Linked DNA regions of Homo sapiens: regions 2, 3, 4, 5, 6 and 7 are each reported to be linked to region 1. Evidence: microRNA targets listed by miRTarBase, many of them from high-throughput screens and not tested one by one. Region 1 holds a microRNA gene; each other region holds the end of a gene's coding sequence. Distances are from middle to middle.

Region 1 (4,215 bases):
TGAGAACACAGAATGCTAGCCCGAGGAGGCCTACAGGCGTGTGCAAGGTTAGCTGAGTGAGGACAGACCATCCCATGAGCTTGGGTTAAACCTGCCTGCAGCGACCGTCTGTGAAGGTGGCCTCTGCTTCCTCTTACGGGGAGTACTGGGGTGGGGGTGGGGCTGCCTCTGCCTCTTCTGTCTGCCCCCAGGGCAGAGCTCTGGCTCTTTGTGCAGGCTCCTTGTCCTGCCACTGTTTGCCCTCTCTGGGACATGTCAGCACCTGTGCCCTCTTTGGGCCTCAGGGCTCATCGAGACAAGGAGGGAAAGAGCATGAGAGTCTCCTCAGCACTGCTGGTCCTCAGGTCTCTGAGGCAGCCCCACCCTATCCTGGGATGCCTCCCAGTGCTGCCCTGTGGGTCTGCAGTCCTTTGGTGCCAGTTGGTGGGAGGGGCAATGTGAGGGTCACGACAGTTGATTCCTGGCTCTGGGCCGCCATCAGATCTTCAGAGGGGCTGGTGTGCTGGTGGCTGCTGGTGGCCTCAGCTGGGGACAAGGAGTCAGGGTTGGAGCCTCATTCCATGTCTGACAAAGTGTGGCTTTAGTTGATCACTGCTGGTGGGTGGCAGGGAAGCTGAAGCCAGGGCAGGAGCAAGAGGTGGCCTGGGGAGACAGTACCTCTGTGGAGGGCCCCTTCCCCTCAGAAGCTGGGCCAGCCCAGGGCAGCCGAGGACAGTGACACAGGAGAACACCCACGGGCCAGTTGTCCGGTGCCAGCTCCCCGGCTGTGTGATCTTGGGCAAGTGGGCAACCCTCTCTGAGCTATGGTAGGGAGACCTATCCAGAATTCAGGAAAGCATGTTATAGGCCCAGGGCAGTCCTGGTATTGGGGCAAAGAAGGGCAGGCAACCCTGGGTCACCGACTTGTCCTAGGGGTCCAGTCCCCGGGATTTGGCCTCTTGGAGCCCACTGGGTGGGTGTCTAGGGGAAACTGAAGATGGATCTGACTCAGTTGGGTCCTGGTACCAGCATTTTGGCTTGGGAGTGGGAAAGGGTAATAAAGGACTCTACAGTCACAAGAGCTTGGCCGCTGCCTGGACAGGCAGCCTATGCAAGTCCCCTCCTATCTCTGAGCTGCCATTTCTTTATCTTTCTGAGTTCCACCTGGGGCAGGACCTTCAGCTTCCCAAGTCTCACCAGACCATCGCCTCCCGGGTGCCAGGCTGAGTTGGCTCTCAGGCCCTCTCTTTCCCAGGCGGGCCTCGGGTGGTGCCAGGTGCCGCAGGAGCTTCCGGTTGGTGCAGGGAGCTGGCTGGCGTGGGCTGTCTGAGGGCAACTGTCTCGGTGCTTAGCTGAGGCCTCATCGAGTGGCACCTGTGGCCCGGGCCAGCTGGGATGGGAAAGGGTGGTCTGGCCTCCACCTGCTCAGCTCACTTGCCCTCTAGCCACTCTCACTTGAGCCTCAGCCTCCTGTATCTGCTGCTGCTGCTGGAGCCCAAGGGGCTGGGGCCATGGCTGGGTGCCCCAAAGACAGGAGAGAAGGAGGTGCTGGGGCTTTGCGCCCTGGAGGGGACAGCTAGAGACTCATCAGGCAGGAAGTATCTCCTCTTCTTGATTCTGATCCTTCACCCACCTATGTCAGCCTCACACCTGTACCTGTACACCTGTGGGGCAGCCTTCCCCACCTGTGGTTTTCCCCACTTCTGGAGCCCTAGAAGAATATGTAGAGCAGGCTTGGGGTGTGGCCCCATGGAGCACCCCCAAACTGCCTCTGGTCCCCAGGCTCCGGCTTGTGCTGTCCCTTCCCGCTGTCTGGATTTTGGCCTGTCTGTGGGACCTTGAGGAGCCTGGAGCCTGGAGCTGCCAGCTCGTCTGGGCCCTCCAGGCTCCAGGATCTCTGGAGGCCATGGGTGGGGCTGGTGCTGGCCTTGTTGGTGTTGCTCCTGCTGGAGTAGTGGTGCCCTCTGGCATCTGTGCCTTCCACGGCAGGTCACTGGTGCCATTTGCCATGTGCAGTGGGTGCTGGAGTCTAAGCTCGTGGAAAACTTCCAAGGCCTGGGCTATGGTCCTCATGGCCGTGCGGCCTGCCTTGACACACACAGAAGGGACACATGCACTAGTGTGCGTTCAGGGGACACGTGAACACACCCCTCATATTCAGACAGGTGTAAACAGCTCAGCCACACAAGTGCTGAGCTCCAGCAGACTCACGCACGCAGCCACACATATAGACAAGGTACAGGTGTAGCCAGTGTGTGAACATTGATAAGTCTGTCAAGGCAGATATGTGCACAGTCCAGAACACAAGACGGGTAGAAAGGCAGACCTACAAATGTGCACAGATCCCTGCCAACAAACATGCATATCCATACATGCACATATGCATACACAAGCTGTCATGGGCACACTTACAGGGGAACATGCCTTACTCAGAGCACAGAGCATTTCTCCAGCCCTCCCTGCATCCACTGCAAATGGGGACACATGTCCTATCCCTCAGCAGGCAGGGAAGGGCTGGGGGAGGGAACTTCACCTTTTCTTAGACCCATGGCAATGGAAAGTGGGCACCATCTTGGGTGATGTAGCCAAATGTCTCCTGTTCTGGGAGTCTCGGCACACATAGAAGATTCTGGAGAGGAGGGGGAGGTGCAAGGCATGATCCACTTCAAGCAGCCACCAAGCCCAGTGGGAGCTGGGTCTCTGGGCTTAGCAAGACAAGAGCCCAGGGGCCGAGGCTGAGCTGAGGAGCCTCCAAACCTGTAGACAGGGTCATGCAGTACTAGGGGCGAGCCTCATCCCCTGCAGCCCTGGCCTCTGCAGGGACAAGGGAGAGGAGAGGGTACGTCTGCAGGAGGGATTGTGGATTCAGCCTCCCATGTAGGATATGAAGCGACTCAGGCTGGGAGCAATCAGAGATCCCTGGGTTTGTCATGGCGCTGGGGTCTCCTTAGGACATCAGAGCCAGCTGTTACCTGCAGGGAAACCATCCAGATATATTTAGATACACACATACTTAGCATTGCATTACAATTGCTGACAGTATTCAGCACAGTACCATGCTGTACAGGTTTATAGTGTAGGAGCAATAGGCTATGCCATGTGGCCTAGTTGTGCAGTAGGCTACACCATCTAGGTTCATGTAAGTTTGCCCACCAAAATTGCCCGGTGACACATTTCTCAGAATGTATCCCCATCTTTTTTTTTTTTTTTTTTTTGAGATGGAGTCTCACTCTGTCGTCCAGGCTGGAGTGCAGTGGCACGATCTCGGCTCACTGCAACCTCCGCCTCCCGGGTTCAAACAATTCTTCTGCCTCAGCTTCCTGAGCAGCTGGGATTACAATCACGTGCCACCACACCCAGCTAATTTTTGTATTTTTAGTAGAGATGGGGTTTCGCTATGTTGGCCAGGCTCATCTCGAACTACTGACCTCAGGTGATCCGCCCACCTCGGCCTTCCAAAGTGCTGGGATTACAGGCATGAGCCACTGTGCCCGGTCGTATCCCCATCATTAAGTAACGCATGACTGTGTTCATAAGGTTGTGCAACCGGTTCCACTATGGCGCTCCAGAACATTTTTGTGACCCCACAAGAAACCCTGTGGCCATGAGATGTCACTCCCCATTCCGTCAGCCTCTGCAACCACTAATTCACTGTTCGTCTCCATGGATTTTCGTATTCTGGGCATTTGGTAGGAATGGAATTAGACATTATGTGGCCTTCCGTGTCTGGCTTCTTTCACTTAGCATAATGTTTTCAGGGCCCTGTGCCTCTGGTTTATAAGTGAGGACACTGGCCCAGACAGAGGGAGTGACTGTCCAAAGTCACATAGCAGCCAGGAGTCAGGCCCCTACACAGTGTTGGCTTTTTTAGGACCTCAGCCTTGGTCCCTGGGGTTGTGGGCTGTGGACAATGGAAGAGGTCACACTTCATCTAAAGGGGCAGCTATTACTCAGCTCTGCCTGGGACAGAATCCAGGGGCAGCACTGCCTAATACTAAACACTGTAAATAATGATACAAACGGCCAGGCACGGTGGCTCAAGCCTGTAGTTCCAGCTACTTGGGAGGCTGAGGCAGGAGGATCACTTGAGCTCAGGAGGTCAAGGCTGCAGTGAGCCATGATTGTGCCACTGCACTCCAGTCTGGGTGACAGAGAAAGACCCTGTCTCAAAAAAAAAAAAAAAGTTACAAATAACACCAGCTAACATTTTGCATGCTTCTTTTGTGCCTGGTGCTG
Region 2 (4,215 bases), not on the chromosome of region 1:
ACACAGCTACACCCATATTCCTAGGGAGGGCTTGGGGTGCACACCTGCTTCTACATACAGGGTTTCTGGGCCATAGGTTTTGCAGCTAATACTGGCCTACCAACCTTCCCATGACAGAGAAGTTGGTTCCTTCAGCAAAACCACTTCACCTTAGGGGTGCCCATGGTGCCTAGGAAGCGGGGGAGCTCTCCTACAAAGGAAGTAGTTTTTCTGCTTCTATGACCTCTTCTTTTCTGAATCCACCCTAGAAAAAGGCCTAGACGGAGCAAAAAAAGCTGTGGGGGGACTCGGAAAACTAGGAAAAGATGCAGTCGAAGATCTAGAAAGCGTGGGTAAAGGTGAGTATATGTCCCCACTCCTCCCTCAGGACCAGCCTCAGTCTCCACCCCTTGCATGAGATCTGAAACTGCCACAGCCCCCCCATTGAAGACCCCTCACTTTGTGCTTTCAAATGTCTCCAATTCCTCATCCAGATTTAAATTGCCATTCTTGTCTGATATTGATACTTCCTGGGGTCTAACTTGCTTTTTTTTTTATTGCTCTTGCCCCCTGCCCCTGCCAAGGTGGGGAAGAGAGGTTGGTCTTTGGGGCTCCTGTGAATCTAACCTCCATCCCTCTGACTTCTGTGTAAGCACCTCCAGGCCTCCCTTCCCCTTCCCCTTCCCCTACCTCTCCTTCCCCAATTCCCTGGCTCTCTTTCCCTTCCTTTTTTCTTCCTACCCCTTTACCCCATTTTTTTCTGTGGCTGTCCTAGGAGCCGTCCATGACGTTAAAGACGTCCTTGACTCAGTACTATAGCTGTAAGGAGAAGCTGAGAAATGATACCCAGGAGCAGCAGGCTTTACGTCTTCAGCCTAAAACCTAAAAAAAAAAAAAAAAAAAAAAATTTAAAACAGCTATTAAACTGAAAGCATCTGTAATACTTGGAGTATGTGTGTGTTTTCCTTAAGAAGAGATGGGGTATGAAACCTGGCCAGGAGCCCAAAAGGTTGGAAGAGCACTCCATGAGGCTTCAATTGGCACCCTGGCCCTTCCTCCCGAAACACAGCTTCCAGACCCAGCCTTCCCAGAGAGCACAGCTCCAGCAAGTTCTTTGATTCATGCCCAGCCCCTCACCCATATCTGCAGGGTCTAAGCCTCAAGTCCCAAACTGGTTGCCTCCTTATCCCTCATTCTGCCTGCCCAATGCCATTTTACTATGCATCAGTGTTGAGTGGGACTTTTCTCATTGCCCTGGATTTGGCTCTAGGACCCACAGCTAGAATCATAGACCCCCCAAATACCCCACATTCCATGGAGAACTTCTGACATCTGGAGCCTGCCCACCACCCTGGGACTTCCTTAGAGCTAGAAAAGCCAGCCCAATCCCAATCAATCACAGAACTATCATTCGCTACCCCGTGGAGAAGGAGAAAAGTGGAATCATCAGGGTCACTGGCTCTGATGAGCACTGGGGAAAGCAGTGCACATAGCAAAGAGATTTTTCTTGAAGATCTCCATGGAAGAAGGGAGGGAGATGCTTCTTCTACCCTTCAAGTCAAGTGAAGGGCTGTGGAAATCACTCCTAGATTGAAGGTTCCAGTCCAGGAGGAGACAGGCATCTCCCCCACCAACCTCCCATCCCCAGCTGAATGCACCCTCTAGACTGACCTGAAGCTGCCCAGACTGGAGCACAGTAGGACAGCTCTTGAGAAAGCCGTGTCCCTAGGCATCAAGATTATATTAATTAGGGAAGGCTAATCTACTATAAACAATAATCCAAGATATAATTGCACAAACATGTACAAGTCAAGATGGTTTGCTCCAGATTTGGGGGAAAGAGGCAATAGTCTGTCTTCTCCACAGAGTCGTTTAAGGATTCCAGGATGCCAACAGCCCTGCCACCTTCAATATCTAGCTTCAAGATCATTCTGTCATCTTATCACCATTCCAACTACAGAAAGGGGGAAGGAGCATGGAACAGATTGCTTGGAGGTTTGTATGAGCTATACTAACAAGTTATATAAGAACCCACTCCCAGTGACCACACCTAACTGCAAGGACTGGAAATGCCTAGCAGTAGGATGGTCAAAATGAATGTTTGTCTCCCTGTAGCAACTTCTGCCACAGGGCAAAGTGAACAAAAAGGTGGGTACCTGTTTATCGTCTGACATTTCTAGAAGCAAGAAGTTTTTCATGGTAGCCTGTGGAAGAGATGCAAGAAGACACTCTCATCCAAGCTCCTGAGGCCACTAAAGAGCAAGGAAGAGAACTTAGGATTCCCATTGCTCTCATGAGTGCATTTAGAAGAGGGATCGAAAGCCAAGAAGCTGCACTGGGGGCTTCCAAGCTGGATGGGAGGAGGCAGAACCTGGTGAGAGGGTTGAGACTGTGGGCCACTGGCCCAAAGGAACTGCCACTCTTTGAGGGTTTCCACAGCAATGGCAGGGCTGAGGTGAAGCTAATCACCAACTATCTGGTGACCACCACACCCTGCATCAGTGGAGGCATCCAGAGGAGCAGAAGAATGGAGACCAAGCCAGGAGGAGATCAGGATTTCTCCCTCATTGACTGTGATCAGTGACCTTAGAAGATCTCTGTCCGCCCCATCCCACCTTGCCTGAGATCCAGAACCAGACCCCACCCCTTTTCATGTCTCTCCAGTAAAGTATATGCTGGGGAAAGGAAAGGGAGGTAAGATTTTATACTGGATGGACTCTCAACAACCACAAAGAACTAGAATAAATGGAATCCTCTAAATTTGTCATCAATAAATGGGAAAGGGAGATTTAACAACACATACAAGATGCCTCTCAATTTAGGATGAGGTTACAGCCTGATAAACCCATCATAAGTTGAAAATATAAGTTAAAAGTACATGTAACATACCTAACCTACTGAACATCATAGCTTAGTCTTGCCTACCTTACACGTGCTCAGAACACTTACATTCACCCAAAACTGGGCAAAATCATCTAACACAAAGCCTATTTTCTAATAGTGTTGAATAGCTCATGTAATTTATTGAAAACCATAATGACAGTAGAAAACAGTGTGCTTTTATGGGTACTAGAAGTATGGATTCTACTGAATGTGTATTGTTTTCTCACCGACGTAAAGTCAAAACATTGTAAGTCGGGGACTATCCGTATTTGGGAGCACTGTTTGAAGAAAAACAAACTCCACCAAGTCCTGCCTATTCAAGAAAATATTGTTTCTAAAAATAAACCCACAAGCATCAGGATTTGTCATCATAATGATGATCAAGGGGCTGGGCACAGTGGCTCACGCCTGTAATCCCAGCACTCTAGGAGGCCGAGGCAGGTTGATTGCCTGAGCTCAGGAGTTCGAGACCAGCCCAGTCAACATGATGAAACCCCATCTCTACTAAAAATCCAAAAAAATTAGCTGGGCGTGGTGGCGTGTGCCTGTAATTCCAGCTACTCAGGAGGCTGAGGCAGGAGAATCACTTGAACCTGGGAGGCAGAGGTTGCAGCAGTGAGCCGAGGTTGCTCCTTTGCACTCCAGCCTGGGTGACAGAGCAAGACTCCATCTCAAAAAAAAAAGAAAAAAAAGAATCAAGGACAGCCATTTCTAAAGGGGTCTTCGGTTATGTATATTAAAAATTCAAATCTAATTCTCAAAATGTTAAGGAAAAAGCAAAGAGATGGAAACAAAGGAAGAGCATGATAAAGCAAGCACAATTAAATGTTGACATTTGGGAGCTCAAGTCCCCATTGGATCTAGAAAGAGGATGTGAAAATTCTTTGTACTATTTTTACAAATCCTCTGTAAGTCTGAAGTTATTTCAAAACAAAAAGTAGGTAATGCATATGTTAATTAGCTTGATTTAGCTGTTCCACATGCAACCATATTTAGAAACATCACATTGTATGTGATAAATATATACAATTTTCATTTGTCAATTTTTAAATTAATTAGCTTTAAAATAATACAAAGTAAAAATATTAAATGAAGTGTTCTGAAATAATAAGAAAATTAGGAGTTTTACAAGAAAATCCAGATTTCCAATTTTCCTTGAAGAATTAGAATGTCTGGCAGCCATCCGCTCAAGGCAGAGACAGCTGACCACTTTACAAAGGGCAGGCACACTCCAATTTGCTCCAACTCTACCACTTCCTCCTGATTTCCTGCACCTGAAAGGGAAGGACAATTACTACTTATCATCGCACCTATGCTGCCGTTTGCCTTGTACCTGGACTGCCTGGCTCATTA
Region 3 (4,086 bases), not on the chromosome of region 1:
GCCACGGCTGCAGAGCCTGGGCTCAGCCCCAGGGAGGGCAGGGAGAGCAAGGGGCAAGGTCCCCTTACCTTGTGGGCTTGGGAAACACGACTCGTGGTTCTCAAATTTAGCACCTTACAGACAGTTGAGGGAGACCTGGGAGATCAAGTCGGCACTGGGGAAGCAGGCAGCGGTCCCAGAGCCACCCTGTGGTCCTGATAGCTCCTGGGTGGGGTGACGACATCCTTCTCCTCAGGTCTTCTGGGTGGGGCCCCTGATGGGAGCCCTCCTGGCCTCACTGATCTACAACTTCGTCCTGTTCCCCGACACCAAGACCCTGGCGCAGCGGCTGGCTATCCTCACAGGCACCGTAGAGGTGGGGACAGGGGCAGGGGCAGGGGCGGAGCCCCTGAAGAAGGAATCCCAGCCGGGTTCGGGAGCCGTGGAGATGGAGAGTGTGTGAAACAGCCTACGCCTGGCCGCGCCCTTGGGCTTCCTGCCTTGCAGGACCTGCCTGGAGGTTCTCCCTGGGGGTGGCGGGAGGGGGAGGCTTGACCTTTTGTCCTGACCAGGTGGGCTGGAGGGGACAAGCCCTATCCCTGGCATTACGTTTCTAGGTAGAATCTGGGAGTGAATTTGTCCCATTCCCTCTCTGTAGGGCTTCCCCACCTCTCGGTGGGACAGAGCAGAGGAAGGCAGGGGATTTAGGATCGCCCTCCCATCCTCTCACCCACTGGACCCCGTAGGAGTCCTGACCCCAGATGCCCAAGTCTTGGGGGAGAAAGGAATGGGAGCCCAGACAGCCACTCTGCTTAGACATGGGAGCTATAGGGACCTCAGGGAGCCCCAGCTTCTTACCCACCCAGGAAACCCTTGGTCCAGAGAGGACAGGCTTTCTGGAGGAATCAGGCCCTGGGACAGCCTCTGAGCTCCTGGGGGTGTTTCTCTGACCTTGGGTGTGGTTTTGGGGGCTATATTTCCTCCTTCAGACTGGGGGCTTCCTGAGGACAGAGACTGCTCTACCAATAGATCTTTGTTTGTTTTGAGACAGAATCTTGATCTGTTACCCAGGCTGGAGTGCAGTGGCATGATCTCGGCTCACTGCAACCTCTACCTCCTGGGTTCAAGGGATTCTCCTGCCTCAGCCTCCCAAGTAGCTGGGATTACAGGCGCCTGCCACCACGCCCAGCTAATTTTTTGTATTTTTAGTAGAGATGGGGTTTCATCATATTGGTCAGGGTGGTCTCAAACTCCTGACCTGAGGCGATCTGCCCACCTCGGCCTCCCAAAGTGCTGGGATTACAGGCGTGAGCCACCGTGCCCGGCCTCTCCCAATAGGTCTTTATTCCTCAATCCTCCAAATGCTCTGGAGAGGCCCCCACCCTTGAGAAGAACTGACACAGAGAAGAACATTTTCTCAGGCTCGTAGAGAGGTGGGATAGAGGAAGGGAGGTTTGAGCCAGACAGGCCTTTCCCAGGGAAGCCTCCTCCCAGGTGCTTGCCCCAGCTCCCACCCCACAGCCCACTCTCAGGCAGGAACAATCCTCAGAGGGGAAGTGCCCATCTAGCCATTGACTCATGACCTGGGTCAAAGAAGCCGTCTCCAGGCTCTCTGTCAGCATTACAGGATCCCCAGAAAGCTGTTGAATAAGCCCTAAGGGTGGTAGGAACCCAGGAGGGACCCAGGAAACTAAGATTTGAGATTCAGTGCCTCTGAAAGACTACCAAAATCTAAGTTGGTTTAATAGTTAAAAGCTGCTGTAGATTTATTCTGCCCACAACTTGGGGGTCCTTTCTGGATCTCGGCTTCTCCAGCTGTAAAATGGACACACAATCCTCCTCCAGGGACTGCTGTGAAATCAAGAAATCGGAAAATACTTTCAGAAGTTAAAATGCTAGAAAAACAACCCCAATAAATGATGATTATTGTTGCTGTTACTGTAATTATTGGGTATGAAGACAATTGCTGTTGGTAATGAGAGGGAGGAGGGGAAAAGAGAGAGAGAAAGATGATTGAGAGGGAGGGAAGAGAGACTGGGTTTTCTCTCACATCATTGGATCTACTTAACCAGGGACCCTGTGTGCTCTTCTCCTGGGTCTGCTGACCTTGAGGCTTTGTGGGTGTGAGGGGCTGTGGGAGGGCCCTGGAATGAAGAGGCGAACCAATAAAATCAGTTCTTCTCATCTCTATGACGCCCATCACCATGGTACCCTAAGATGCAGCAGCCAAATTCATATAAAAGATGGGTCCTGGCGGCCAGGCACGGTGGCTCACGCCTGTAATCCCAGCACTTTGGGAGGCTGAGGCGGGCAGATCACGAGGTCAGGAGATCGAGACCATCCTGGCCAACATGGTGAAACCCTGTCCCTACTAAAATATAAAAAATTAGCCGGGCGTGGTGGCGCGTGATTGTAGTCCCAGCTACTTGGGAGGCTGAGGCAGGGGAATCACTTGAACCCGGAAGGTAGAGGTTTCAGTGAGCCAAGATCACGCCACTGCACTCCAGCCTGGTGACAGAGCAAGACTCTGTCTCAAAAAAAAAAACAAAAAAAACAAAACAAAAGATGGGTCCTGGCCTGGTGCAGTGGCTCCCACCTGTAATCCTAACACTTTGGGAGGCCAAAGTGGGAGGATCGCTTGAGGCCAGGAGTTCGAGACCAGCCTGGACAACATGGCAAAACCCTGCCTCTACAAAAAATTAAAAACTTAGCCAGGCATGACGGCTCAAACCTGTAATCACCAACATGTTGGGTGGCCCAAGCAGGAGGATTGCTTGAGGCCAGGAGTTTGAGACCATCCTGGGCAGCATAGTGAAACTTCATCTCTATTATTTAAAATGAAAAATTAATTAAATTAAAATACAAACAAAAGATAGATCCTTTTTAGTGATGTCTCCTGAGGGACTGGGGATGGGGGAAAGGCTGCCCAAGTCTTCCAAGGGCAGTGTGGCAGGCCCAGCCTGTGACCAGTGCAGTAGCTGAATCCCTGGTGCTCATAGCCCCAGTAGCTGTGCTCAGCGTTCTGTAATATCAGCGCAGATACTACTCACATCTCTCCAAGCTGGGCCCCACTCATCCATCTTCACAATCTCTCAGAGTCCAAGGCTGCCTGTGTCCTTTTATGAGCAGGGAGAGCTGGGTGTCTGTATGTATGCATGTATGAGAGCGTATGTGTAAACAGAGGACATGATTGACTTGCTCAAGGTCACCTGGTTCAGGAGCACGAACACTTAAGGTCTCCCCAGCTCCCAGTTGAGAATTTTCCAAAATAGAGCTCCTGGGGGGTTCATACAAGCTGCAGCCCCAGGAAGGAAGGAAACAGGAACTAGAGGATTGAAGGGGATGGGGGCGTGGAGCTCCTATGGTAGGCTCTTAAGCTCCTTGACAAATGATCACTGCTTTTTGTCCCCAGAGCCAAGCACACACTGGGTGCTCAATATAAGTTTGATGAATGAATAAGGCTGGGCAGTTGGGGAGGATGGGAGGCAGTAATAGATCAAGAGGAGAAAATTTCAGGAGTTACAGCTCCAAATAAGCCAGTATGACAGCAGCTGAGAAGCCTATGCTTCCAGGCAGGGGCTGGGGAGAGGGTGCATCGCCAGATATTTGCTGTTCCACCCACAATTTCAGAGCAGGCTTCACAATGTCTGTCCCAGGAACATACAGGCCAAAATATGAGGGGTTGCCTGAAGAGAAAGCTGAGGGGCTATTTTCACTAACAGTTCTTCAAAGCAGTTCTGTCAGGACAGAGCAGGAGGAAATAAGTTTCCTGAGAAGTGGGGAATTAGGTTAGCCTCTGAAGAGCATCCAAGGTTAGACGTGGAAATAAGTAACCAAAGGTTCGCTTCCCCTCCTCTGGAGCCCTTTAATAGGACAGCAGGCCATCTGTTTGGATGAGGGAAGGGCTGGCCTTTGGAGAGCTGAATCTCAGTAGCTCCAGCTGGGGGAAGCAGGCTTCATTGGCATAGCCCCTGGGCCTGGGTGGGGGCAGGGGACATGGGGAGGACAGAGACCCAACCAGGCCAGCCCTTGGTGTGCATTCCCTTCCTCCTGTTTGTCAGGGAAGTTTTTAATTAATGGTGTATAATCTGATCTGACCCTTCTCCC
Region 4 (4,215 bases), not on the chromosome of region 1:
TTATGACCTCTTGCCATCAACCTGGGCTGAGATTTCCTCTAAGAAACCCCCATAGCACAGCATGGGGGAGAATTCCCATCCCCAGATTAGGGCCCCAAGCCAGGTCCGCAACCAAGGGAAGGAGAGGTGCCCCCAGAGTTAAACTCAAGTGTCCCCAAAGGCTTTTTCAGCCCTTTCCCCCAACTCCTCAGTCCCACAGGTGGCCAGATAAAAAGCATGGATTTTGGCACCAGCCAGATCCAAGTCCAAATGTCAGTCTCATCATTCTCTGGCTGTATGATTATGTGACTTAACCTGTCTGAGCCACAGCTTCAGAGGGAGGCTGTGGCATTTAGTGATGATATATCTGGCACATAAAAGATGCTCAATAAATGCTAACAATGATCAGGGCTGCCAAAGACAGTTAAGCAAGCTGTGCACAGCAAAAGCACACCACACTTTGGAAGACATCCACACCACAGACCTTGTAGGTGTGTATATTTGTTGTACAAGTTTCTGGCAGATGACACGAAAATCTCTTGTTCTAACAAAGTTGCTATAATATGACAATTTTCTCATAGATGAAAGAAAGAGTGGGAGAAGTTTTTTTTTGTTTTTTGTTTTTGTTTTTTAATGTACAAAATTCCTGGTAGTCCTGGCTGTTATTCAACCTCATTTCCAACCCTGAATCTTTTTCTCCTCTGCTTTCATAGGCCCTAACTCTTGAGCAAACTCCAGTCCTAGAGCCCTTTCTAGGCTGTGGCTATGGCCAACCCATTCCCCAGGGCCTGTCTCATTCTGGCAAGGAAGGGGTGCCAGAAGCACAGCACTTATAGCCAGACAGCCTCCCTCTTGCCTTTTCTCTTTTGCAGGTTAACATGGTGGTCTTAGGCAAGTACCTGGGCATCCCCAAGCCCTACGGGCCCATCATCAATGGCCGCTGCTGCCTGGAGGAGAAGGTGCAGTCCCTGCTGGAGCCTCTGGGCCTGCACTGCATCTTCATTGATGACTACTTGTCCTACCACGAGCTGCAGGGGGAGATCCACTGTGGCACCAACGTGCGCAGGAAGCCCTTTCCCTTCAAATGGTGGAACATGGTGCCCTGAGCCTGCCCCCACCCGCCATCCTCTCTGCCCTCTTGCTAGGGAACCCTGCCAGGGTGAAGGCAAGGAACAACCACCTGGCCTCCATTCTCTTGGGGGAGTCTTGGCACTTTGCAAACATCCTGGCCACCATGGGCACCAGGACACAGGGATGGATACCACCTACCCTCGCCTCTGGAATGGCCTACCCAACCCGAGAAGAATGCACCTCATTCTTCCCTGGCCTCTTTCCCACCCACAGCCCCCAGAGGCTCTAGATCAACAATGTTAGCATGTTCCAGAATGGCTGTGGGAGGCCTAGGGAGATGGGCCCCACTTAGAATTGCTCCCCCTTCATTCTGATGCCTCCCTGGGGAACAAGGATAATGACTTTGCATCTGCACCTGGAACGGGGCCTGGGGGACCTGGGGTCTGGTGTGCCAGGCACCAGGCTGCCTCTGCTCTTGGAAAACTAGGAAAGGGGATCAGAAACATCCTCTCCCCGCTCTAGGTTTCTTCTCCCAAAGGGGACCCAAGGCTGTGACACTTACCTCCACCCCCATCCAGCACCCTTCAGCTGTGTGTGGACAAACAAGGACAGAAAAACCCAGTGTCCAAGGGCCAATTTAAATAGAAAAAAAGACAACAAAATTTTAATAGCTGACTCCGACCTCAGAAGAGTGATTGCTACCTTTCTGGAAAGACTTTAATTACCAGAGCTGGCTTCTCCCAGCTCAGAAATGCTGAGAAGCCAACGTGAGGCCTGAGGACACACAAAGGATGACGGGGCAGGAGGGGATGAGGTCAGGGTAGCAGAGTGTGTGACGACGGATTTGGGGGCCTAGAGGTGTCCGTGGTTCCTGGGCTGGGATTTTGGACTCTGGATTTGAAGGGAGCTGGAGCTTCCAGATGTAGCAGGGGTAGGGGGCCAGATGTTAGAAGAGGGTGTGTGTGTTGGGAGGAAATTAGGTTATCTCTGAAGGTGGAGTTTAATTTCCTTTAATAGTCTTTAATTATTCCCCTTCATTCTGCAGGCAGTGGGAGGGGAAGGCTTGCCCGGTCTCTCTCAGCAACCCAGGGACCCTGCACATAGCTTAGGTTTCATCCCTGAATAAACCGCTGTGCAGGCCCATGTCCCCTCCCACAGTAGGGAAGACAGCTGCCACGGGAGGTTAATAGCCCGGAGTGAGGTCACTGAGACATGCACAGGCAGGCTGGTTCAGCTGGGCTGCAGGGCACGGGCAGGAGGAAGCCAGCCTACCCTCTTCCCCCACTGCCAGTGAGGCCATTGTAGGGCAGTTGGCCCTAGGGCTTCGGTCCATCTAGGTTTTCAGTGGCCCCTGCTGAGACCTCACACTGAGCCAACTACTGTCACTGTTTTAACCAACAAAAGCTAGCCTGGAACTGCTATGGTTAAAGTGGGTGAGCGGGAACCTGAAAATCCCCTTCTGGAAGGTTCTACAGAACTCTATTTGCAAGCTCCTGCTTTAACCTGAGCGTCCTCTGCTCAGGATCATACCCCAGCCTGCACTGAGTCAAGAAGGAGAAGGAGGCTCTGAAGGGGCCGGGGGTGTGAGCTGGGGTTGGGACTCCCCTGAGAAAGAGCTGTGGGTAGGAAGGGAGTGAGCATTGCAGAGATAGGGCTGGGGGTCGGGGCCACACTGAGTGTGGGAAGCTCTGGAGTTGCTGCTGGGCCATCGAGGGGCCCTGGTGTTGGCTCTGAGAATGTTCTGGGTGACCAGTCACCTACTTTCTGATCAATAAAAATGTCGACATGCATTTCTTACAGGGCTGTCTACCCAGCCTGTTTGTTGGGTTGGGGAGGAGGGGAGGAAAGCGGAGAAGACTGCTTCCAGTTCCATCCACTATGAAGCTGCTTGGCTCAATTTCTGCTGCCACAGGCGGCCCCTGCTCAGCTAGGAGAGCCTCACAGTGCCACGGCCAGTGCCACGGCCAGTGCCAGGCAGGCTGATTCAGCAGGATGGCTGGCACATTGCCTCTTGCTCTGGGGCTGATGGCCCTGCTAAGATGGAGATCAGATCAGGGGAGGGATGGGTCCTGCCTCTTCATCTCTTCTCTCTTCCTTCAGCATCCCCTCCATCTCTCAGGGACAACAGGTCGGGGAGGCAGCCCGGGCCCTATTAACAGAGGTGAGAGTTCCCCAGCAGGGCTGGTTCCCAGGGCCACAGGCCACTACAGTTCCCTTTCTGGTTTTCGTTTTGTTTTGTTTTCTTTTCTTTTGTTTGAGACCGAGTCTTGCTCTGTCACCCAAGCTGGAGTGCAGTGGTGCTATCACAGCTCATTATAGCCTTGAATTCTTGTGCTCAAGCGATCCTCCCACCTCAGCCTCCTGAGTAGCTAGGAATACAGGCACAGGCCACCATGCCCAGCTAATTGCTAATTTATTTTTTACGGAGCTGGGGTTTTGCTATGTTACCCAGGCTGGTCTCAAACTCCTGGGCTCAAGCGATCCTCCCATCTTGGCCTCCCAAAGTGCTGGGATTACAGGTGTGAGCTACTGTGCCTGGCCCAATTCCCTTCCATTTTTGTGTCTGAAGCTTCTAAGTTACCTGGCTTCAGTGGTCTGATTTTGGATGCCTGAAATCATCACCCTCTCATCCTACACATTTGCTGCTGCCTCAAATTACACCGTTTGATACTCACTCACTTTATTTTAGCTTTTGTTGTGGAGTAAGAGGGCAAAAAGTTGCTGCCTATTAGTCATTGACACTTTAGTCTGAATTAACCACAAACCTGTTTCTAAAAGTTGGTATTAACAGAGGAGAAGTGAAGGCATGAGTCTCCTTCCAAAGACATATACAGTTCTCCGAGAAAGAGGCAGGTAGTGGGCCAGCACCCCAGGGAAAGCCCCTACTTTCTGCATCTATTCCCCATCTGTGCTCACAAGAAGGCTAGGGAGACTAAGGCTTCCTCCTGAGCTCGAACTCTTACCCAGGGCTCCCAAGGCTGACTCAGCCATCAAGCCATTCCACAGCTGAAAAAAGTGAAGCTGTCCCTTGACCCAGAAGCCCAGCAGTTCTCCTTGAAAAGAACATCTTTCCCAAAAACTGAGACATGGGAATGACAATCTCAGGGTCCTGTTGAGGCCCTTGAACTGGTGCAGATGTCCCAGCTGGAGATGCTGGGGAGCGGG
Region 5 (3,000 bases), not on the chromosome of region 1:
CAGGCCAAAGCTGGCCTGAAGTAGCTAGATAAGCTGGAAGAAACCCTCCTGGCTTGAGGCAGGGGCTTGCAGAGGAAGTACTGCTCAGTGGAAACCTCCAGGCAGTGGGTGGATTAAGCACAGGAGATGCGAGGGTCTGCAGATAGAATGGGGTACTTGGAGGGGCAGGGACCACAGGCAGCGCCACACAGGATGTCTTCCCACCCACTTCATTGACCCACCACGCAGTAGCTGGAAGCTGCAGGAGAGCCCCTTCCTCCTGCTGTGTCCCTCCGGGGCCCTTTACTGAAAAAGCTTAACAATGTGCTGACTTTTTAAAGGAACTCTGTTCATTGTCACTGAGCCTATTATGAAGAATGAATTTGGAGCAGAGTGGTAATAAATTCACAATCAGCACAACACTCAGTAAGAAACATGATACTCATAAAAAGAGTATTAACATGTTCTAAAATGAATTCTCAGGATTCTCTGAGATATTTGGAACTGAGTATTTATTTGAAGGAAGAAAAAATTTCCTGGAGAGATAAGCCTTTATTTTCTAAATAAATTAAAATTGTTTAAAGATGAGTCAGAGCTACCATAAATTCATGCAGAGGCATTTCCAAAAGGACATCAGTAGAGACTTTAACACACGTGCCCTCAGAATGCAGAAGGCCAGTGGGGTTGGTTCACAAACTTGACACTGCTAGAGGAACCTAAGCTGAAGAGCGCCACGTGAGGGTGGGCAATGTGGTACCAAACACAGCAACAGCCTCCACATCTTTTAAGGCATTACACACTTGAACTCCACAAGTCTAGGAGATAATCAATAATAGATAATTATTATCCTCCTTTGGCACAGGAGGAAACTGGTTCAGAGGCTAGAACTCCAGTCCCCTCAGCCAGTGCACTTGCTGGTTCACCTCACTGCCTTTGTTTTTCAAAGCTCTGCTTCAAATTCCCCTCCCTCCAGGACGCCTTCCCTGACTAACGCCAGGCCAATGTCCTTTTCACTTAGCACTTTGAGGAAGTTGTTGTATAACATTGCACAATGTCTAAGAACAGTGGTTCTCTAACTTTAGCTAAGCATCAGAATCACCAGGGGGCTTGACTATTGAGCCTGCTTCCAGACTCAGAGTTTCTCATTCAGCGGGTATAGGATGAGGCCCAAAACAATTTGCATTTATAACAAGTTCCCAGGTCCTGCTGAGGCTGTTGGTCAGGTTACTACAATTTGGGAACCATTGATTTAAAAGCTAGCATAATTTTTTTTTAAGACAGGGTCTCCCTCTGTCATCCTTACACTGTAGTGACACAATCACAGCTCACACTAACCTGGAATTCATGGGCTCAAGGGATCCTCCCACCTCAGCCTCCAGAGTAGCTAGGACTACAGGCGCTCACCACCATGGGTGGCTAGTTTTTTAATTTTTTGTAGAGACAGGGTCTCACTATGTTGCCCAGGCTGATTTCAAATGCCTGGCCTTAAACAATCCTCCTATCTCAGCCTCCCAAAGCACTTGGATTATAGGCATATCCAAGTGCTTTGGGATATGTTGAAGCTAGCAGAATCTTCACGCACATCCTAAATTCATATGTGCAAGTCTAGTATAGAGAGTGTGAAATGTTACTTTTCTCAAGCAAACACTCTCCAACCGTTAAGTCTCACTTATTTTTTCTGGGTGTTCAGGGACCCTGACTGCCAAGAGATTTACCTCCCAGCTAGGCAAACATGATTTTGGCCTCCTTATTTCTTTGGCATCAGAAAGGTCTGCTACCCCTGTAAGTTTCCTGCTCTGTCCTCTCTAAGATAAGAACACAGCATGGCTGGGCTACCATCACCATCATCGCTGCAGCTCATGCTTGCCCAAGTGGTGTTGGCCCTTTCCCTACATTGTCTCTTTTAATAGCTGTAAGTAAAGGAGACTGTTGTTGTTGCCGTTGTCGTTTTGGGAAGGAAGGGATGCCTTCATGACAATCTTCCTCCAAGGAAAAAAAGTGATGACCATTTGAGAGAAATATCCTTACTCAGAGTAGTTTTTTTCAACATAATACACATACACTATGATTTATCTTCGTTTATTAATTACACCAAGTAAAAATGTGAGACGCCTCTGTTTCTTATAACCTAACTTTCTTTTAAAGAGAAAATGTCCTTCTTCAGTCGTAAATCCAAATTTACAATAGAAACTGTGTCCTCCAACTGCCAATATGACATCCAGGGCAAACTTTTTATAAAAGACACACAAACTCCTGGGTTTGTCATCAGTCAGTAGGTATGTATTTGAGGTGTCCCACATAGTATTTTGTAAAAACTTGAGTCAACCTTTTAAAATCAGGCATGTTCGCTGAAAATCCAGATTTCCAGTTTTCTTGAAAAACGGTTAAAGCCAAGCCAGGTCCTGACTTTATACTTGACAACAAGCAGCTGCAGCTGATTCCTTTGGATAGGACATGTGTGTTCCAGTTCCTTACAGATCCCATCACACACACTCACATCAGCTCTTACCTGCTTGTCCCTGGTAGGTCTTCAGATACAAGTTTGCACACCTTTGCACTTCTGATTTCACAGAGCCATTTGGGCTTATAAACTTGTAGTGTAATTTTTGAAAAAGAATTTAAATTCTTTTAGATAAATGTTAAAAGGGTGTGATGAAAGCTGCCTCATGACTGTTCTCTACTTTTTCAAGGTATCTCTCCTATCTTCAATTCCTTACATCTTCAATTCCTGAGCAGACCAGGACTGAAGTCTTAGGAACCTGAGGTCCAGAGGTCCTGGGTTCCAGAGACACAGATGTGGCAAGGCGAGTCACAGGACGCCCTGATAGGAACTGTGAGAGAATAGAAAGGGAAAGACCATTAAGGAAAAGGGAAGCCAGGAATGAAGGGGAGAGAGGTTGAGGAAAGGGAAAGGGGAGACTTACGTTTGCCTCTTAAACCGGGAGGTAAAGCCCACAATGAGGAGGAACAGCAAGCACGCCAGGACTGCCAAGGCAATCAAGCCCATGGAGGTGTAGCTCC
Region 6 (4,215 bases), not on the chromosome of region 1:
CTACAGTCAGAGGGGAAGTGGCCCTGGTGCTTCTGCCACGGGTCCCGCATGCCAGTGATGCCCACGCACCCCCACAAATGCTCCTTCCCACCTGTCAGGGGCTGGCATCAGATGGCACAGGCGCATGTCGGGTCTGCCCTGGATCTGTCTGGCTGCATCTGGGTCCGCCCTGGCAGGGGCCCAGCATCTTCAGCCAGGGGCTCCACCAGCAGCCCTGCCAGCCCCAGCAGGGGAGGCTACAGGCAGACACCCACGGGTGCTCATTGGGCCAGGCACTCAAGTAACCCACAGCCGCCTCTCGGGCACACCACTTGTCCCCTAAGTGACCATGGTGGAGACAGCAGCTCCAGCCCCAGTACCCCCAGGGTCATGGACCTAGGCTGAGCTGAGCAGTGTCCTTACAGCTCTGGGAGGGTTGGGGAGAGGATGGGACAGGACCCTGCTGAGTGGCCGCCTGGCCTACCCTCCCAGAGACTCACGAACAGGAGGATCTGCTGTGGATGCGTCTGGGGCCTGGGCTCCTCTGACTGTGCACCTGGGGTATCCAGGCAGCCCGACACCTCTGGTCCACCTTGTGCTCCAGGCAGGGGCCCAGCAGGGTGAGGCCAGTTCCCAGGACCCCTGGTCAAGGGCACCAGCTTCCCCATGACAGTGGCAGGTGCCTCTTGCTCCCTGCTGGCAAGATCTGGGTGGGGACAGGAGGCCCTCAGCCTCCCCACATAGAAGCCACCACTGGGCTAGAGTGAGCTTTGTGACACTTCGAGCAACAACCTCTGGCAGTGCCGGTGGGAAAGGATCTGCTGGGCCAGGTGCGGAGCTGTTTTTATTAGTGAGTCGGGGGGTGGGGTGGGGTGAAGAAAACATCAGAGACACCTGTGCTGCGAGTTAAATACATTTCCAGCATCTCACGCATCACAAGCTGCATCAGGAAAGGGCACAGCATGTGGCAGCCTCATCCACACCCACGCAGTGACAGATGTGTTACAGCATGGACACCAAGTCCCCGGGAGCCAAGATGGCAGCTCCAGCATCCCTCCCTTCCTCCCTTCCTCCTTCCCGGGCTGGGCCGGGCCATGCAGAGAAAGGGCAGCCTCTGCCATGGCAGCCCCAAATCACCTCTCAGAGCAACTGTCTGGGGTCCCCAGCCCCAGAACTCCAGCAGAGTCCTGGCCTGGGGAAGCCCCCGTGCCGCCTCAAGCCTCCAGCAGGGCAGGCCCCTGGCCAACTGTGGCATCTGCCTTGACTGCCCAGAGCAGCAGGAATCAGGTTTTGGGAGGACACAAGGCAAGGCAGTCATCTGACACACCCACGGCAGTCCAGCTGGCACTGAGTGTGTGGGCCTCGTCCTGTCTGGAGTCCCCTCCCTCCCACAGTGGGCGAGACGGGAAGGCCTGGCGGTGACCAGACAAGTGGGTCCAGGTCTCAAGGCAGCCTGGCCCATGTCCTGCAAGGCTCTGAAGAGCCACCCAGCTGTTAGTCTGCCCACTGCACAGGGCCCCGGGCCTCTCAGGTTGACAACTAAAGGTGTGTGGGCTGTGGGGCTCTTGCAGATGCTTCCCAAAATCACCAGTCATTTCTACAGACACAGAAATCGAGACACTGAACAGAGAACAAATGGTGTCATTCGATAAAGCTGATGAGTCTGCTTCTCACATGGCACCCAGATCGTAAGGCAGTGGGGTCTGTAAAATCATCGCGGTGGCTGGCCGTGTCCTCATGAGCCAAGCACACTGACTCCCGGGAGTGGTGTGCACGCACATGTGGTGCCTGGACATACACGAAGACACATGGACGTGGGGGTCTGACCTGGACATTCACAACGGAAACGTCTACAACAGAAGGCGCCCAGGACCCACCTTTCTGGCGCATAAATGAAGATTTTTGGCTCAAAAACCTAAGCATCCTCCAGCTTTTGCTACCATCTGTCCCTCGGCTGGCTGAGGACTGCCGATGCTTCCCAAGCAGAGGCGTCTGGTCCACTCCTGGGGCTCCACCTGCCTGTCACTGCAGCACCAGCGTGCACACGATGGAAACCCCACCGATGCCGCTCTCCTCCGCTTGGCCCCGCTGAGCCAGGGTGAGGTGCTGCCACTGCCTTCAGCCTACAGGCTGCTTGCCTGAAGGGGTCTCCACATCTCCACCCCCACAAAGCAATCCAACAGCAGTATGAAGAGACGCAATTCTGCCAATTCTAAGGTCACATTAAAACTTTTCCCCCCAAGATTATGATCACTGCCAGCTGGAGAACCCAACGCCCTTGCACATGCCAAGCTGCATCCTGGCATGATATGGTTTTACAAGATGCTGCGTCATAGAAAGTGACCGTGCCGTTCAAGGAAACGCACATCGGTTGGCTTCCCAAGTTTTCGGGTCTCCGAACCAGTGACAGTCACGTGTCGCTCAGTGACACATGAGAAACGTGTGCTTAGCCGCTGCTGTGTGATCACAGAGTCTTTACACAAGCCTCGATGGTGCATGTAGTTTTATTTATGTGTTTTCATCTGGAAAACCAAGTGTCCCAGCAGCATGACTGAACATCACTCACTTCCCCTACTTGATCTACAAGGCCAACGACGAGAGCCCAGACCAGGATTCCAAACACACTGCACGAGAATATTGTGGATCCGCTGTCAGGTAAGTGTCCGTCACTGACCCAGACGCTGTTACGTGGCACATGACTGTACAGTGCCACGTAACAGCACTGTACTTTTCTCCCATAAACAGTTACCTGCCATGTATCTACATGATTCAGAACATTTTGAACAGTTAATTCTGACACTTGAATAATCCCATCAAAAACCGTAAAATCACTTTGATGTTGTAACGACAACATAGCATCACTTTACGACAGAATCATCTGGAAAAACAGAACAACGAATACATACATCTTAAAAAATGCTGGGGTGGGCCAGGCACAGCTCACGCCTGTAATCCCAGCACTTTGGGAGGCTGAGGCGGGTGGATCACGTAATCCCAGCACTTTGAGGGGCAGAGGTGGACAGATCATGAGGTCAAGAGATCAAGACCATCCTGGTCAAAATGGTGAAACCCCGTCTCTACTAAAAATACAAAAATTAGCTGAGCTTAGTGGCACACACCTGTAGTCCCAGCTACTTGGGAGGCTGAGGCAGGAGAATCGCTTGAACCCAGGAGACACAGGCTGCAGTGACTCGAGATCACGCCACTGCACTCCAGCCTGGCGACAGAGCGAGACTCCATCTCAAAAAAAAAAACCAACAAAAAAACTGGGGTGAAAATCTAACGGATAATTCAGCATTGCCGCATAGAAACCTCCGCAAAACCGGCCAAACAAACGCGGACAGGCGGCCCTGGCGTCAGCGCACGACAGTCACGTGGGGAGGGGCAGTGGCCAGGTCGGCCTTGGACGGGTACACCACCTTCAGGCTCCCTTCCAGATCCACCACCCGGACCTGCTCCACCACCAGAAGGGAGGGCCCGTCCTTTCCAGCACTGGGATTCGTTGTGGGATCTGGAAGTTGTCCAGAGACTGCATCGGCTTCAGTATCTGAGAGTGATCCTTCCTCTTTATTTTCTAAAGTGTACTTTTTCATTTCTGCCATTTTCTGCAAATAAAAAATACCTTTTTAACCTGGAGATGAGAGGTGACCCAGGGAAGACATGCTGCTGTCTGCCAACACAGTAAGCAAAAAAGAGGCAAGCAGGACGGGTGGGAAGTCAAGGAGCAGAGCACCACTCACGCTCAAAAGCGTTTCTCAGGAGGAGCCACCCCACACTCACCAGAATGAGGGCATCCATGACATCCTTGCAAATCTGCAGACTGGTGGCACTTGTTACTTCCAAAAACAAATCAGAAGTCGTTTTCTTAACCTTAAAAGAAAAAAACATTTCAGAAAAGAACAGTTATCAAATGTAGACATCAGCAACTGCAACATTTGTTCTCAGGAAAAATCTACAAAACTGTGTGGCCAGGCACAGTGGCTCACACCTGTAAATCCAGCACTTTGGGAGGTTGATGTGGGAGGATTGCTTGAGCTCAGGAGTTCAAGACCAGCCTGGACAACACAGCAAGACCCCATCTCTACAAAAAAATACAAAAATTAGCCAGGTGTGGTGCCATGCACCTGTGGTCCCAGCTACTCAGGAGGCTGACATGGGAGGATCGCTTAAGCCCAAGAGTTTGAGGCTGCAGTGAGCTATGATCTTGCCACTGCACTCCAACTTCGGCAACACAGC
Region 7 (4,215 bases), 26 Mb from region 1:
GGCTGAGACACAAGATCACTTGAACCTAGGAGTTCGAGATTGTAGTGAGCCGAGATCATGCCACTGCACTCCAGACTGGGAGACAGAGCAAGACGTTGTCTCAAAAAAAAAAAAAGTCTGGGAGCTCCAAGTTTACACTCCAGAAGCCTTTTAATTATTTTATCTTACTATTTGTGCTTGTAGACACAGATCTTGCCATATTGCCATGCCCAGCCCTCCAGAAGCCTCTTAAAAGCACATTGAAGGCTGGGCACAGTGGCTCACACCTGTAATCCCTACACTTTAGGAGGCCAGGGTGGGAGAATCACTTGAACTTGGGAGTTCGAGATCAGCCTGGGCAACAGGGCAAGAGTCTGTCTCTACAAAAACTATTTAAAATTAGGCAGGCTAATTTTTTAGTAGTGGTCCCAGCTCCTCGGGAGGCTGAGGTGGGAGGATCGCTTGAGCCTGGAAGATGGAGACTGCAGTGAGCCGAGATCATGCAACTGCACTACAGCCTGGGAGACAGAGTGAGACTCTCTCTCAAAAATAATAATAATAAAATAAATTAAATATAAAAGCGTATTGAAACAGTAAAGAACTCCTACAACTCAACAACAATAAAACAAACAATTTGATTAAGAAATGGGCAATGGACTTGAATAGACATTTATTTAAGAAGATAAATAAATGGCCAACAAGTACATGAAAAAATGCTCAACACCACTAATCGATTAATTAGGGAAATACAAATCAAAACCAAAACACAGCCAGGCAGGTGAGCCTGTAGTCTCAGCTACTCCAGAGGCTGAGGCAGGAGGATCATTTGTGCCCAGGAGTTGCAGACCATCCTGGGCAACATAGTGAGATCCCATCTCTAAAAACAAAATAAAATAAAAATAAATTATTTTTTAAAACATCCATTATGATGGCTACTAGTAAAAATGAAACAGAAAATAACAAATGTTATTGAGGTTGTGGAGAAATTGGAACCCTTGATGGCGGGAATGTAAAATGGTGCAGCCACTATAGAAAACAGCATAGCAGGTCCTCAAAAACCTAAAAATAGAAAGACCACAGGATCCAGCTATTCCACTTCTAGGCATATATCTAAAAAAATTGAAAGCAGAGCCTTGAAGACATATTTGAACACCCATATTAATAGCAGCATTGTTCATAATAGCCAAATGGTGGAAGCAAGCCGAGTGTCCATCAGCAGATGACTGGATAAACAGAATGCGGCAAATCCACACCACACATTCAGACGTAAGGAAGGATGCTCTGCATGCTACAACATGGATGAACCTCGGTGATATGGTGCTAAGTGAATAAACCTGTCACAAAAACTATGTGATTCTACTTATATAAGGTATCTTGAATAGTCAAACTCACAAAGAGAGTAGAATGGGGGTTGCCAGGGGCCGGAGGGATGGGGAAATGGGAGTTCTTGTTTCATGGGTACAGAGTTTCGGTTTTGCAAGATGAAAAAGTTCTAGAGGTAGGTTGCACAATCAGTATGGTTACTCCTACTGGACTGTATACACTTAAAAATGGTTAGGATGGTAAAGTCTGTTATGTATTTTACCACAATTTAAAAAAAAAGTTTTTTTTGAGACAGGGTCTCACCATGTCACTGAGGCTGGAGTGTAGTGGCGTGACCACAGCTCACTGCAGCCTCAACCTCCCAGGCTCAAGCAATCCTCCCACCTCAGCCTCCCCAGTAGCTGGCATCAGAGGTGTGCGCCACCATGCCTGGCTAATTTTTTTGTAGAGATGATGTTTCGGCCATGTTACCCAGGCTGGCCTCAAACTCCTAGGCTCAAGCGATTTTCCCACCTCAGCCTCCCAAAGTGTTGGGATTACAGGCGTGAACCGCCGCACCCAGCCACATAAAAATCCACACGATTCCTTCCTGTGTTGGCCTGCTCCAGATCTGGCTCAGCTTCTCGAAACTCAGAAAGTTGCAGCTTGCAAGGATTTAGAGATCTAGTTGAATTTTACAGATTAAAATACTAGAGGCCACAACGGGCCAAGTGACTTGGGAAAGGTCTCCCGAGTTTAATAGTAGAGACAAGATTAGTTAGTCTGGCTCCTGACTCCCAGACTGTGGCTCTATCCCGCACTCCAGTTCCAGTGGGGACACCCATTCCCACGCAGGGAGGGAAAAGGCACCCTATCCATTTGGGCCTCCTTCCCATACACCAGGGGTTGGCGGTAGGTGAGCATGTGAGGAAATGCACCTGTGGTAAAAGCTCCTGAACAAACCTGGAGGGAGATGAGAAGAAACAAACAGGTGAGCGCTTAAATGCTAACAGGATTGGCCGGGTTCGGTGGCTCACGCCTGTGATCCCAGCACTTTAGGAGGCCAAGGTGGGCAGATCACCTGAGGTCAGGAGTTCAAGACTAGCCTGGCCAACATGAGGCCAAACCTTGTCTCTACTAAAAATACAAAAATTAGCAGGGCGTGGTGGCAGATGCCTGTAATCCCAGCTACTCGGGAGGCTGAAGCAAGAGAATCACTTGAACCCGGGTGGCAGAGGCTGCAGTGAGCCGAGATTGCACCACTGCACTCCAACATGGGGAATAGAGTGAGACTCTGTCTCAAAAAAAAAAAAAAAATAGCTAACAGGATAAAGCCTGAGTATTTTTTTTTTCCCATTGAGTTACTTTGTAGCTTTCCCCAACCTCGAGTCATAAAGGAGTCTGGAATTGTCCCTTCAAGGTGACACATTCTGTTACATTGTGAATGATGGGCACCGTTTTCTGCCTCCAATAATATCACATGATGAGGCATACATAGAAATGATTTTTTATTTACTTTGATGATTAGGGAAAGATACCAACATAGCTTTCATCAAAGCTAACAAATAACTTTACTGGCAGTTAACTAATTTTATTAGACTAAAGACATGTCTGTTTAAACTGAAACAACTGGCCCTTTGCTTTGGCTGGGACCTTGGGAATCACGGCCAAGGTGCTGATCAGAAAAGAGTCACCATTACATCAACCTCCTCCCCAGCACACAGCACAGAGATGCCACGAAGGCCCCATAGGTCCCTAGAAGAGCAGCTGGGGCTCCACCTACCGAGTCCCAGTGGCTTATTTTGAAAAGATTTGCTTTCCACAGGTAAGGTGTCGCCCGAGTACATTTCTTGAGACTGCCATTGGCTCATCCTGCATATGAGGTAGTTCTCTTTGCATTTTGCAGATGCTCTCACTTGCCCAGGGGGTGGATGTCACGAATCCGAAACCTCTGGCTTCACATTCCTACTGGGAATGCCCCCCCAGCCCGCAGTCACAAGTCAGTCTCCAATCCTGCTGCAGACTCTTTAGCTCTTCAAATCCAAACAGATGTTTTCTTCACCCACAGGTTTAGGTTTTAACTGGCTGCTCAGTGTTAAAAAGGAATATCTCAAGCCCCCTGCCATGCTGAAAGGAGAAAAAAAAGTGAAAATAAATGACTGGGAATTTCACAGGGGCTCCAGCAGCAGTTGCTGGCGTTTTTATCAATACACCTGCTTCATGCGGAGGGAATTATTCCAATATCTGTGTTTCTCCTCAAGTTTGTGGATTGCTTGATGAGAATTTCCCCTTATTTACAAGCCTTTGGAGGCAGAAAAAGAGTCATCAAATCTAATGCAGAACCTCAGAGAGAAAATAAGCACTTGGTTTCTACTGAATAAACTACATACCCTTAGCCTTAAATAGTATCCCACTGCTGAGACCCCAAATGCCTTTCAAAGCTGGCTTAGTCCACACCCCCTGCATGCCGAGCCTAGTGGGCACAAAGGTTAACACCCTCCACTTTATAGGAGGAGGGCAGAGAACGCAGGGGCCTGCTGTGAGGAAGACAGGTGAGTTAAATTCCGATCCCAGCCCCGCAAACTGCCATCACACGTGTCCCCATGGATCTGCATGAGGATGAACCCAGTGATGAAGTAAAATTATCTTAGAAATTAGAATGTCAAAACGCCTCCTGGCTTAACGTGAAAGACTTCTCCAGGCTCTTTTGCTTATTACATATTAATCAGAGTGTTTAAGGTTCTTGTCTTCCCAAAGCGAGTCCATTAAAAATTCCCACTCACCAAATATTTAACCCTACAAAGTTTAACAAAGAGAAAATGTAGTCTCCACCGATTAATATCCCAATGTAGGCAACGGATACATTCTGCAGAAAAAGAGAGAGGATTCGTCATTTTAAAAGTAAACTGTTTAGGGGAAAATATAAATAGTAAA

Evidence for each region. The annotated mature microRNA hsa-miR-4478 reads GAGGCUGAGCUGAGGAG and lies in region 1 at 2,711-2,727, shown strand. An mRNA with a match to its seed (bases 2 to 7 or 8) in the 3' UTR can be bound and repressed. Matches are read on the target gene's strand: a 7mer-m8 pairs with bases 2 to 8, a 7mer-A1 pairs with bases 2 to 7 and ends in A, and an 8mer does both.
Region 2: miRTarBase lists DCD as a target of hsa-miR-4478. Seed matches in the 3' UTR shown: 8mer at 850-857.
Region 3: miRTarBase lists AQP6 as a target of hsa-miR-4478. Seed matches in the 3' UTR shown: 7mer-A1 at 445-451 and 7mer-m8 at 1,121-1,127.
Region 4: miRTarBase lists PADI1 as a target of hsa-miR-4478. Seed matches in the 3' UTR shown: 7mer-A1 at 2,315-2,321.
Region 5: miRTarBase lists CD1D as a target of hsa-miR-4478. Seed matches in the 3' UTR shown: 7mer-m8 at 1,442-1,448.
Region 6: miRTarBase lists LRRC47 as a target of hsa-miR-4478. Seed matches in the 3' UTR shown: 7mer-m8 at 3,120-3,126 and 7mer-m8 at 2,947-2,953.
Region 7: the mRNA of SLC35D2 is a reported target of hsa-miR-4478. The part of its 3' UTR that is shown has no 7-base or 8-base seed match.

Annotation. Positions count from the first base shown.
Region 1 is chr9:122,118,659-122,122,873 of GRCh38, reverse strand. MIR4478 (microRNA 4478) reads left to right here and starts at 2,707; the gene lies at 2,707-2,792.
Region 2 is chr12:54,641,296-54,645,510 of GRCh38, reverse strand. DCD (dermcidin) reads left to right here. Exons shown (of 5, transcript NM_053283.4): 4 at 249-338; 5 at 755-922. The coding sequence ends at 798. Among named protein-coding and RNA genes, the nearest start is that of DCD, 5.0 kb to the left of the region's middle.
Region 3 is chr12:49,975,230-49,979,315 of GRCh38, forward strand. AQP6 (aquaporin 6) reads left to right here. Exons shown (of 4, transcript NM_001652.4): 4 at 236-1,910. The coding sequence ends at 442. It overlaps LOC105369764 (a long non-coding RNA gene), which reads right to left and starts at 276. Exons shown (of 3, transcript XR_001749143.2): 1 at 69-276.
Region 4 is chr1:17,243,159-17,247,373 of GRCh38, forward strand. It overlaps PADI1 (peptidyl arginine deiminase 1), which reads left to right. Exons shown (of 16, transcript NM_013358.3): 16 at 852-2,849. The coding sequence ends at 1,085. Among named protein-coding and RNA genes, the nearest start is that of PADI3, 3.8 kb to the right of the region's middle.
Region 5 is chr1:158,183,939-158,186,938 of GRCh38, reverse strand. It overlaps CD1D (CD1d molecule), which reads right to left. Exons shown (of 6, transcript NM_001371762.2): 5 at 2,904-3,000; 6 at 512-2,810. The coding sequence ends at 2,789. Among named protein-coding and RNA genes, the nearest start is that of CD1D, 4.5 kb to the right of the region's middle. RefSeq lists an enhancer at 737-1,250.
Region 6 is chr1:3,777,753-3,781,967 of GRCh38, forward strand. LRRC47 (leucine rich repeat containing 47) reads right to left here. Exons shown (of 7, transcript NM_020710.3): 6 at 3,760-3,849; 7 at 807-3,584. The coding sequence ends at 3,336. Among named protein-coding and RNA genes, the nearest start is that of SMIM1, 7.1 kb to the left of the region's middle.
Region 7 is chr9:96,317,934-96,322,148 of GRCh38, forward strand. It overlaps SLC35D2 (solute carrier family 35 member D2), which reads right to left. Exons shown (of 12, transcript NM_007001.3): 11 at 4,065-4,147; 12 at 2,777-3,408. The coding sequence ends at 3,309. It overlaps SLC35D2-HSD17B3 (SLC35D2-HSD17B3 readthrough), which reads right to left. Exons shown (of 26, transcript NR_182427.1): 11 at 4,065-4,147; 12 at 3,065-3,408. Among named protein-coding and RNA genes, the nearest start is that of HSD17B3, 18 kb to the left of the region's middle.